Regions from separate parts of the Homo sapiens genome. Here region 1 is linked to region 2. Evidence: fine-mapped expression QTL. A gene starts in region 2. The other region holds a variant in brackets. All regions are shown on one strand. Distances are between the middles of the regions. Region 1 overlaps DBF4 (DBF4-CDC7 kinase regulatory subunit). Region 2 holds the start of DBF4 (DBF4-CDC7 kinase regulatory subunit).

Evidence for each region. PIP is the estimated chance that this variant, and not a neighbour inherited with it, causes the effect.
Region 1: its variant is the best candidate, but not a certain one, in a credible set for the expression of DBF4 in testis (GTEx, PIP 0.72).

Annotation. Positions count from the first base shown.
Region 1 is chr7:87,906,361-87,910,758 of GRCh38, reverse strand. It overlaps DBF4 (DBF4-CDC7 kinase regulatory subunit), which reads right to left. Exons shown (of 12, transcript NM_006716.4): 12 at 1,206-3,571. The coding sequence ends at 2,596. Among named protein-coding and RNA genes, the nearest start is that of ADAM22, 26 kb to the left of the region's middle. The variant A/G (reference allele first, on the strand shown) is at 2,541.
Region 2 is chr7:87,874,410-87,878,807 of GRCh38, reverse strand. It overlaps DBF4 (DBF4-CDC7 kinase regulatory subunit), which reads right to left and starts at 2,315. Exons shown (of 12, transcript NM_006716.4): 1 at 2,030-2,315; 2 at 583-755. The coding sequence starts at 2,075. SLC25A40 (solute carrier family 25 member 40) reads left to right here and starts at 2,448. Exons shown (of 12, transcript NM_018843.4): 1 at 2,448-2,712. RefSeq lists enhancers at 2,036-2,155, 2,343-2,852 and silencers at 2,216-2,475, 2,606-3,055.

The DNA of each region.
Region 1 (4,398 bases), 32 kb before region 2:
GTAAAAACGAAGTTTAGCTATGCTGCCCAGGCTGACCTTGAACTCCTGATCACAAGTGATCCTCCTATCTCAGCTTCCCAAAGTACTGGGATTACAGGTATGAGCCAGTGCCCAGCTAAGCCCAGGAGTCTGAGGCCACAGTGAGCTGACTGCACCATGGTAACCAGGCCTGGACAAGAGAGACCTAGTATCAAAACAACAACAACAAAAACAATAAAAAAAAAAAAAAAGAAAAAAAAAGAAAAACCACACACACAACAAACAAAAACAAAAAGGCAAAGAACCTTCTGGGTAAACACTACCTTGGCTGTGCCTTGGTAAAAAATAGGAAAAACTACCCCTACCTCTAGGTAGATGCACCTCATTGCCAGGACACACTACTTGCTGCAAATAACCTGCCTTCATCTCACTGGCTGGGTGCCCATCTGCATAGCTGCACAGCACAATCCAAACTGTATGTGGTGGCCCAAGTAAACTGAAATTATTCCAAGTAAACTGAAATTTAAGCACTTGAAAAAAGCTGAATACTCATTATGAAGACCATGTGGTGTTCCAAAAGTCCAATATCCAGTGTCAAATAGTTTAACAACTTTTACTGAAGGGTTCAGACTTTTTCTCCTTAGTAAGTATAACTTAATGTAAAATGATGCCCAGAGTACCACTGTAAATTGAAGACACTTTTTTTTTTTTTTTTTTTGAGACGGAGTCTCGCTCTGTCACCAGGCTGGAGTGCAATGGCACAATCTCGGCTCGCTGCAATTTCTGCCTCCGGGGTTCAAGCGATTCTCCTGCCTCAGCCTCCCAAGTAGCTGGGATTACAGGAGCGCACCACCATGCCCAGCGAATTTTTTGTAGTTTAGTAGAGACAGGGTTTCATCATGTTGGCCAGGATGGTCTCGATCTCCTGACCTCGTGATCCGCCCGCCTTGGCCTCTCAAAGTGCTGGGATTACAGGCGTGAGCCACCGCGCCCAGCCAGACACTGTTACTCTTAAAGTCAAAGGATCATACAGTGACTTTACATACCTTTCAGTTATTTGGAAAATTTGGGGAACACTGATAACTAAAGGGAAATAAACCTGCAAATAATTTTCCAAGTTCCATTTAGATTTTTCAAAGGTTGTCTACGAAACCTTACGTATGTTTACACATACATACATGTATTTGTGATAGAAAATGGAACAATAATTTACAATGGAAACAGGGTTTGCGTGTATGCACTGTAAAGACTCTTTTATTGAGCCTACTTCAGGTACTGGTATGAAAAACAAAGGTGTTAAAAAGCCAGTGTTCATTGATGTTATCCAAATGATCAAAATAATGTATGCAGGAAAAGCATATGAATTAGTCCTGTACTGAGAATCATATATTTCAAAAAAATTAAGATTAGTAACCTAATTTTTAGTGACAATAGATTCATGTACTATGCAATAGAACCAATTGAATGTCACTGGTGGTAGTCTTACTCCTACAAGAACATACTCAAAGGCAAATGCCTTATATCCACAGATTCAAATTGAAATTTCTTATATTTGAATTTTCTCTTCTCCAAATGCTTGTATCAGTAAGTGCCAGATCAAGGCAATCCTTGTATATATCCCAAAACTGTATCTATAATTCAATGCCATCCTTTTCTCCTTCATCTCCTACCAAATTAGGGGGTAGAGTCAACTTTTTTTTTTTTGAGATGGAGTCTCACTCTGTCACCCAGTCTGGAATACAGTGGCACAATCTTGGCTCACTGCAACCTGCACTTCCCAGGTTCAAGCAATTCTCAGCCTCTGGAGGGAGTAGCTGGGACTACAGGCGCATGCCGCCATGCCCAGCTAATTTTTTGTATTTTTAGTAGACAAGGTTTCACCATGTTGGCCAGGATGGTCTTGATCTTCTGACCTCGTGATCAGCCTGCCTCGGCCTCCCAAAGTGCTGGGATCCTGTGGCATGAGCCACAGGAGAGTCAACTTTTGAATATTATTAAAGTTATTTACAAGGTAAGTAATTAAAAATAGCAGATAAATTATATTCCACTTGGTAGCCTGGTTAAGTCCTTCCTTCATGGCTTCCAGTTACCCCTATACATAATCTAATTACTCAGCACCAAAATACTAGCATGGTCCACCAGTGACCCTCAAGTGTCAATATTTCTGATGATTTCCAGAATTCAAGCATAGAAATGTATTTTTCCTTTCTGTATGAAATTTAGGTTTTTCAAGGCAAGGTCATGTTATCCTGATAATCTTTTAAAATTTACAATACAACTAGAATATCCAAATGTATAATGCTAAGTTTGATATTCCCCAAATTGCACTTCACTGGTGGTTTTCAGTGACAAAGCAAATTATTATTCATTGTAATTCTCAGGAAACAATTACGAACATATATATAATGTAAAACAAGACCAGTCACAAGTTTATTCTGTAATTTTTCTTTAACAGGTATTCAATTCTGTAGAAAATTGCAAATATTTATTTTTAATATTTACATTTGGGTCTGTAAACAAAGCTGGTAAAAAAATCCTAAGAATTTCCATACATATTTATA[A/G]AAATTTCAAGAATATGATCCTTATCACTTCTGAAAAGTATGCATTTTTTAAATTCTAAAAGCCAGTAAATGTAGAAGTTGAAGGGGACGAGAAAAACGCTGTTAACAGATTATCTGAATTTTCCTCTTCCCAAATATCTAAAACATTGCATATACCACTCTTTTCTGTGTAGCTTGTGAAACCCAAAAATTCTGATTTCTCTTCACTAGTCTGAAACAAGTCTAGTAAAGACTGTACCGGTGAACTACAAATTCTGTTTTCTTCTTGTGTAATAAATTCAGTTCTTTTATCAAATTCAGCATTTGGTTCCAGATTTTCTTTTCTATTTCGTCCTAATATTATTTTCACTTTTCGATGTATTTTACCAGAAGGTAAACTATCCATATTCTTGAAGTCACATTCATTGGGTTCCTCAGGAGGAGTATGGAATGGAGCCTTTGCCTGAACAGTTAGGTGCTCTTGTGAACTGTTTATTGTTATCAGACCAGAATCATGAGTAAATATTGAATGAAGGTCCTTTTCCTTGAGATCCTTTGCTGGAAAAAGCACAGTATCTGACTTCTGTTTTGGTTGAGATCCACTATTATCTGTACTGAAATCAGAAACATGTACAGATGCCTGTATGTTACATTTATAGTGATCTACCCTTAGTTCTTCTAAGTCATTTTCACTTAATGTGTGTTCGGAAATGTCAAGAATGCATTCCTGTTTGTTTTTATGTAGAGGTAGCTGTGTAAAATTCTGTCTTATGTCATCTTCAGCTGTACTTAACATGGAACATTTATTACTCATTTTCTCATTAAGCCCTCTCAATTCATTTGAAGGGTGGGGGATGGGCTCTGAAATAAACAGGAGCTTTTTTTCAGTTTCCTGGGTCTCTTTATACAGGAAATTCTGCTCCTTCACTGTTGTATCATCTTCCTGGCAATCTTTCTGAGAAATATGTTGCAATTCCACTTTTTCCTTTTGTTCAGTCTTTTTCAGGACACTTGCAGAAACAGGAGAAAGGGATCCAACACTGTATTTTATTCTTTGTAGGAAAAATAGAAGAAAAATATTAAAATAATTGCTATCAAAACAAATTCCTGAGTAGTTAGAAATTAAATTAGTAAAAACATTATATAATCTTTAAGAAACCTATTTAACTTAGGAAATTTTACAAAAATACAAACATCTTAACATTTTGCCAAATTTACTTGAGCTGTTTTTAAAGTAATACAACTTTTCAGATATAGCTGAAAACCCTAGTGTACCTCTCTTCTCCTCTACATTCCCTGCCTCCCTCCCAGATAACCAATATCCTGAATTTTGACATTTAAAATTACTTTAATCATGTAAATGAAAGAAATTGATAGTAAAGGGATTTGAGCCTGCCCCTAATTTTGCTTTCATTATTCTGAACAATTTCTTAACTTCTGTGCTTTGATTTACATTAATGCACATTTTACTCTTCATTTTACTTAGCAATGTGGAGAATAAGTATTTACTGAGAAACCTATGGCAAAAACATATATTTTAAATTTACATTTAAGAATATTTAATATCAAAGTGAGCTAGAAACTTAGTATCTTTATACTTTCAAAGGTGACAAAGTTGTAACTTTTAAGCTTCAAACATATTTGACCTAAAATTATTTTCTTCATGGAGCATCTTGATATCCCTGAAATTCCAGTTTGTATTAGACAAACCTAAATAATATACAATTAGAGAAAAAGTTAATAGCTCACCAATTACATTTTGTGTTCCGCATGTCACAGATTAACTGTGAGAAATAATACAATTTTTCCTGCCCCTTCAACCAGAATGTTCTTTTTTATCTTGTTCATACATTTACTTACAAACAATTCTCTTTGAACA
Region 2 (4,398 bases):
AGCCAATATCAACCTTAATCCTATTAAGGTCCTAGAATTTTGCCTGAGTTTTCTAATTTCCCAATCATCTAATCAGTGTATAAGGTAGGAAAGAAGGTATTCCAGATTCTTAATGCAAATTTCTTTTCCTTTAATAACATTCATTCTGTTGAAACAACATCTGTATCACTCAGGAACAATTTTAACTGTGGTTTGCATGGCTGTTCTGTAGTAACATTCTTAACTGTTACACTAGTCCAGACAAACTTATGTAGCTCCCCAAGATTCATAATCAAGAAATTGCTGTTATCTGGAGGACATTCCAACATTACAGTAAGCAGTCAATGAGCAGTTCCACTAGGACAGGGGAGTCTTACACTCTAAGAACTTTACACTAGACTGCTAATCAGAGAAACCTGAAAGGTCTGTCAGTCCACAAAAGGTTAAAACAAATGGTTTTTTGTTAACGATAAACAGCTGATAAAAATGTTAAGCTTGGTGCTAATAGAAGCGTTTTCCAAAATGAAAAATTTAAATGATTACACAGTAGAAAGTACTAGTTACAAATTTTTCCTTCTATGCCAGTGTACGGTTTTCACTTACCCCTCCCAGATCCTTAATGTCCTTTTGAAGTTTTTCAGATATGGTGACAGAAGGTAAGTCAAGGTAAAATACTTTTCCCCAAAGTGGCTTACATTTGGATTTTTCTGGCCTGTTATCAGTTTTCAGAGATTTCAGAGATGGTCTGTTTTTTTCATTTTTGACTTGGATTCCACCTATTAAAGATGTTTAGAATCAGATGTTTTACACAGACACTTTTACTATTTTTAAAATATTTCATTATACAATATTACAGAATAAAAATCCTTACAACCCTACCAGTTTAAGTTATTAGCATTGAAATGTATTTCTTTGTAGTACTACTTAGGATAGAGGCAAAATGCCCTATATACTTTCACAGACCGCATATTGTAAAATAATAGTTGACTCAGCAAGAAATATTCGTGTGTTTATTCCTGAGGCACGGAACTATATAAAACTCTTTTGAAAGATTTTCTTTTTTTAGGATGTAAACTCCATGGGGATATTTAATACTCAACTATTTATTGAGCATCTGCCATTCTGCTGAACATTCAAAACTGGTGTTTAAACTTCATTTAGCGATGAAAGAATCCTCTGTTACGCAGAATAACCTAGTCCTCAAGGGTTTCAGACTGCTCAAGTTTTAGTTTCATATAAAGTTTGTCTGCATATTAACAACTAAACGGTCCATTTCACATACAATTTGTCTACGTATTAAGAACTTAACGGTCCATTACGAAGAACTAAACCTTTCATTATTTTCATTAGAAACAGATCTGAGATCCAAGCAACTGCTTTAAAAATTAATTTTTCAAACGCAATCTGTTCTTAAATTGGTAGTTACTACACACACACAAACACCTGTACAAAAAACTTAGGTGCTGGAATGTTTCACCAAATAAAGTGACTGAAAATGGAAATTTGCTTTTGTTTCCCTGTTTGTAATGTTGAAACCAGCAATGGGGTGTTTGAAATACAATGCTTTCCCCCAACTTATGAGGAAAGGAAAATAAACTTTCAAGGGTAAGACCAAAAATCCACCCACAATCACTCAATCTAATCCTGAAGCGAAAAGCCACGAGCGCGTCTGACTTTAAATTGAGGATGCAGTCCGTCGCCTCCAAGGGCCCGGGCGGAGGCTTAGCATATGCGAGAGCCCGGGAGCAGACAGCGCCGCAGTCCCGGCGAGGTCCCGGATCTGCACATTGTTTGCTAGTTTTCAACCGAAGGCACGACCGGGAATCAATCTGGGACCGCCGCTGTAAACGGCAGAGCGCTCGAGGGGCCGGGTCAGGATCCGTTCCTTCTTAGGCAAAACACTGAACGGGGGCTCCTTCCTTCAGACCCCAGAGGCCGGTCAGAAGAAAAGAAGCTGAGGACCCGGCGGGAGAAGTCTGAAGAATCAATGGTGGAACCACGAGGGGAGGAAAGGATTAAAGGGACTGCAGGCGGAGGAGGGGCTTCTTACCCTGGAAATGTCCTTTACTGTGGATCCTCATGGCTCCGGAGTTCATGGCAGTCGCCCGGCACCTACATGCTGGGTCCGGAGAAAGTGTCGCACCGGGCAGCCGCGAAAGCACGGCTTCCCCCGGCCTGTTGACAGGACGGCCGCCTCTCTCCTTCCGCCAGCTACGGCCTCTACGCAGTAGAGGTACCGCGTCTGCAGGTCGGGTTTCCGGGGCCGGATCCGGCTCCAAGGCGCGGAGGAGGAAGGCGCAAAGCACAAACGAGTGGGCTGCGGCGGTTGAAGATTTGAAAACGCGTCACGCGGCCGCGGCGCCGATACGCGCGCCCCGCCCCGTCTCACGCCACGCGCCGTGCCCCGCCTCGCGCTCGCCCCTCGTGCCTGCCTTCTCGCGCTGCGCGCCCCGCCCCCTCACGCCGCCGTCCTTCTCGCGCCTCGCTCTGGCCCTGCAGGTTGTGTTTCCGCCTCTACCCCGCCTCCATTCCGTTGCTCTCTCAGTCTCAGACCCGGGCTCTCGGTCCGCCGCTTCAGGTCTTGGCGCAGCCTCAGAGAGTTGGCGCGGCTCTGTGTTGACCAAACCTAGTGGATGCAGTTAGCGCCGGAGCCCGGCCCCGCCCGTCACCAGGGTTATTCCCGCCTTCTAGGTTTGCCAGGACTGCCGGCCCTGCAGCTGCCTTCTGCCCCAGGTATGCTAATTTTCCACTGGTCGGACGTCTGGGAAGCTGAAGGCGAGGGGCTTTGGCTGAGTCCGGACTCAGCTCTGGCCGGGCCCGGGGCCGGGGCCGGAACCGGAGCCGGACAGCGGCGGCAGCCGCAGCCCCTGCTCAGCGCGCCCTGGGTCGCACAGCAAGCGGGGTTTTCCCGCGGTCACTGCCGACCCCACCGGCTGAGGACAGCTGCAGAGGGACGTGCGGGAGTGAGGGCGGCCCCGGGGGGCGTCTGAGGGAGGGTCTGGCCAGGCGGCCCCGGCCTTGACGGCAGCGCCACCGCAGAACGCCTCCAGGTCACTTTGTGTCCTTGGGTAGTTGGCTATTTGCGCTGTCCTGTTGACTTTTATTGTATTCAGACCTGTTTTCTTTTAGTTGAGTGTAAGTTTATTTCAACAATGAAGGAGTGGAAAGTAACATCTCATTTTTTTTTCCTGTAAAACAGAGATTAAAGATCAAATTAAAATGCTTGTGAATATATTTTAATTTTATAAGTTGGAACATGCCTCTCCAAAAAAAAAAAAAAATCTGTTTCTTCAGGAGGAAGAGGATATTTTGAACTATTTTGCATTCCTCTACTCCAGGCCATAATAGGCACTCCTGTAGTGGTTGATTTTTTTACCTGGTAGCTCAAGGAAGTCAGAGTATCAGCGTTACGGTTTTGCAGGTAGGTACCTTAAAGAATAGACAAGGGTGGGTTGTGACAAGATTAGCTGGAGAACGCAGAGAACAGGTTTGCTAAGGGAAATGAGAGTTTGGTTTTAGACAGGTTTATGTTGAAGGGCCTGGGGCGACAGTCATGGAACTATGCTTATTAGACAGTTAAAGATGTTTATGACTCGAGAGAAATGTCTAGCAGAAGTGGACATGGGAAGAGGAAATAGAGATTGATTTGATATCTCTCCAATAAAATATTTCTGCATCAAGGTCTATTGATGTCAATCATGGGGCAATTCATTAGAGGTTAACAGATCTTGAGTGGTGGAAGGAAGTGTAGTTTGAACAAACATATTCAATATTGTAATTTCTATGGGAAAAAACTTATTTTCAAAATATAAGCTACAGAGAGCACAAAATGTTTATATTTACAGAAAGATTTAAAAAGTTGGGAAGCACTAATATAGAATGTAGTTAAAGCTTTGGGAGGAAATGAAATTGCCAAGGAGAGCATGTGAAATAAGAGAATTGATTATAAGCGTCGTTGATGAAATAGTGAAAGAGATGGAGAAAATGCCACAGAATTGGGAAGAGACTGCAAACATTGGAATCATATGGGCTTCACTAACTACTTGGCCTCTGGGTAATTTTGAGCCCCAATTTTAATCTATTAAAAGGGGGTAGTACTTCTCAGGGATGTTGTGAAGATTAAATGAACATTTTTGAATGCTTAGTACAGTGCCTGGCACAGAGTAGAGCTCCTTAAGAGCTCCATAATTACTATCATTCTAGTGAACACTGCACCAGTTCCTTCATCCCCAGGACAGATAAGGTTAAGACTTGAAAAATAAGTATTTGATTTTGGCGTTTCAGGTATCCTTGGTTTCCTTAAGGGTAATTTGAGTAGGTGGCAGAGATAAGTACAGTACTAGATAAAAATTATAATCTTGAAGTTCAGACAGGTTGAGTGTACTCTTTCAAAAAAATTTGTTATTGTAGGAAAGTATA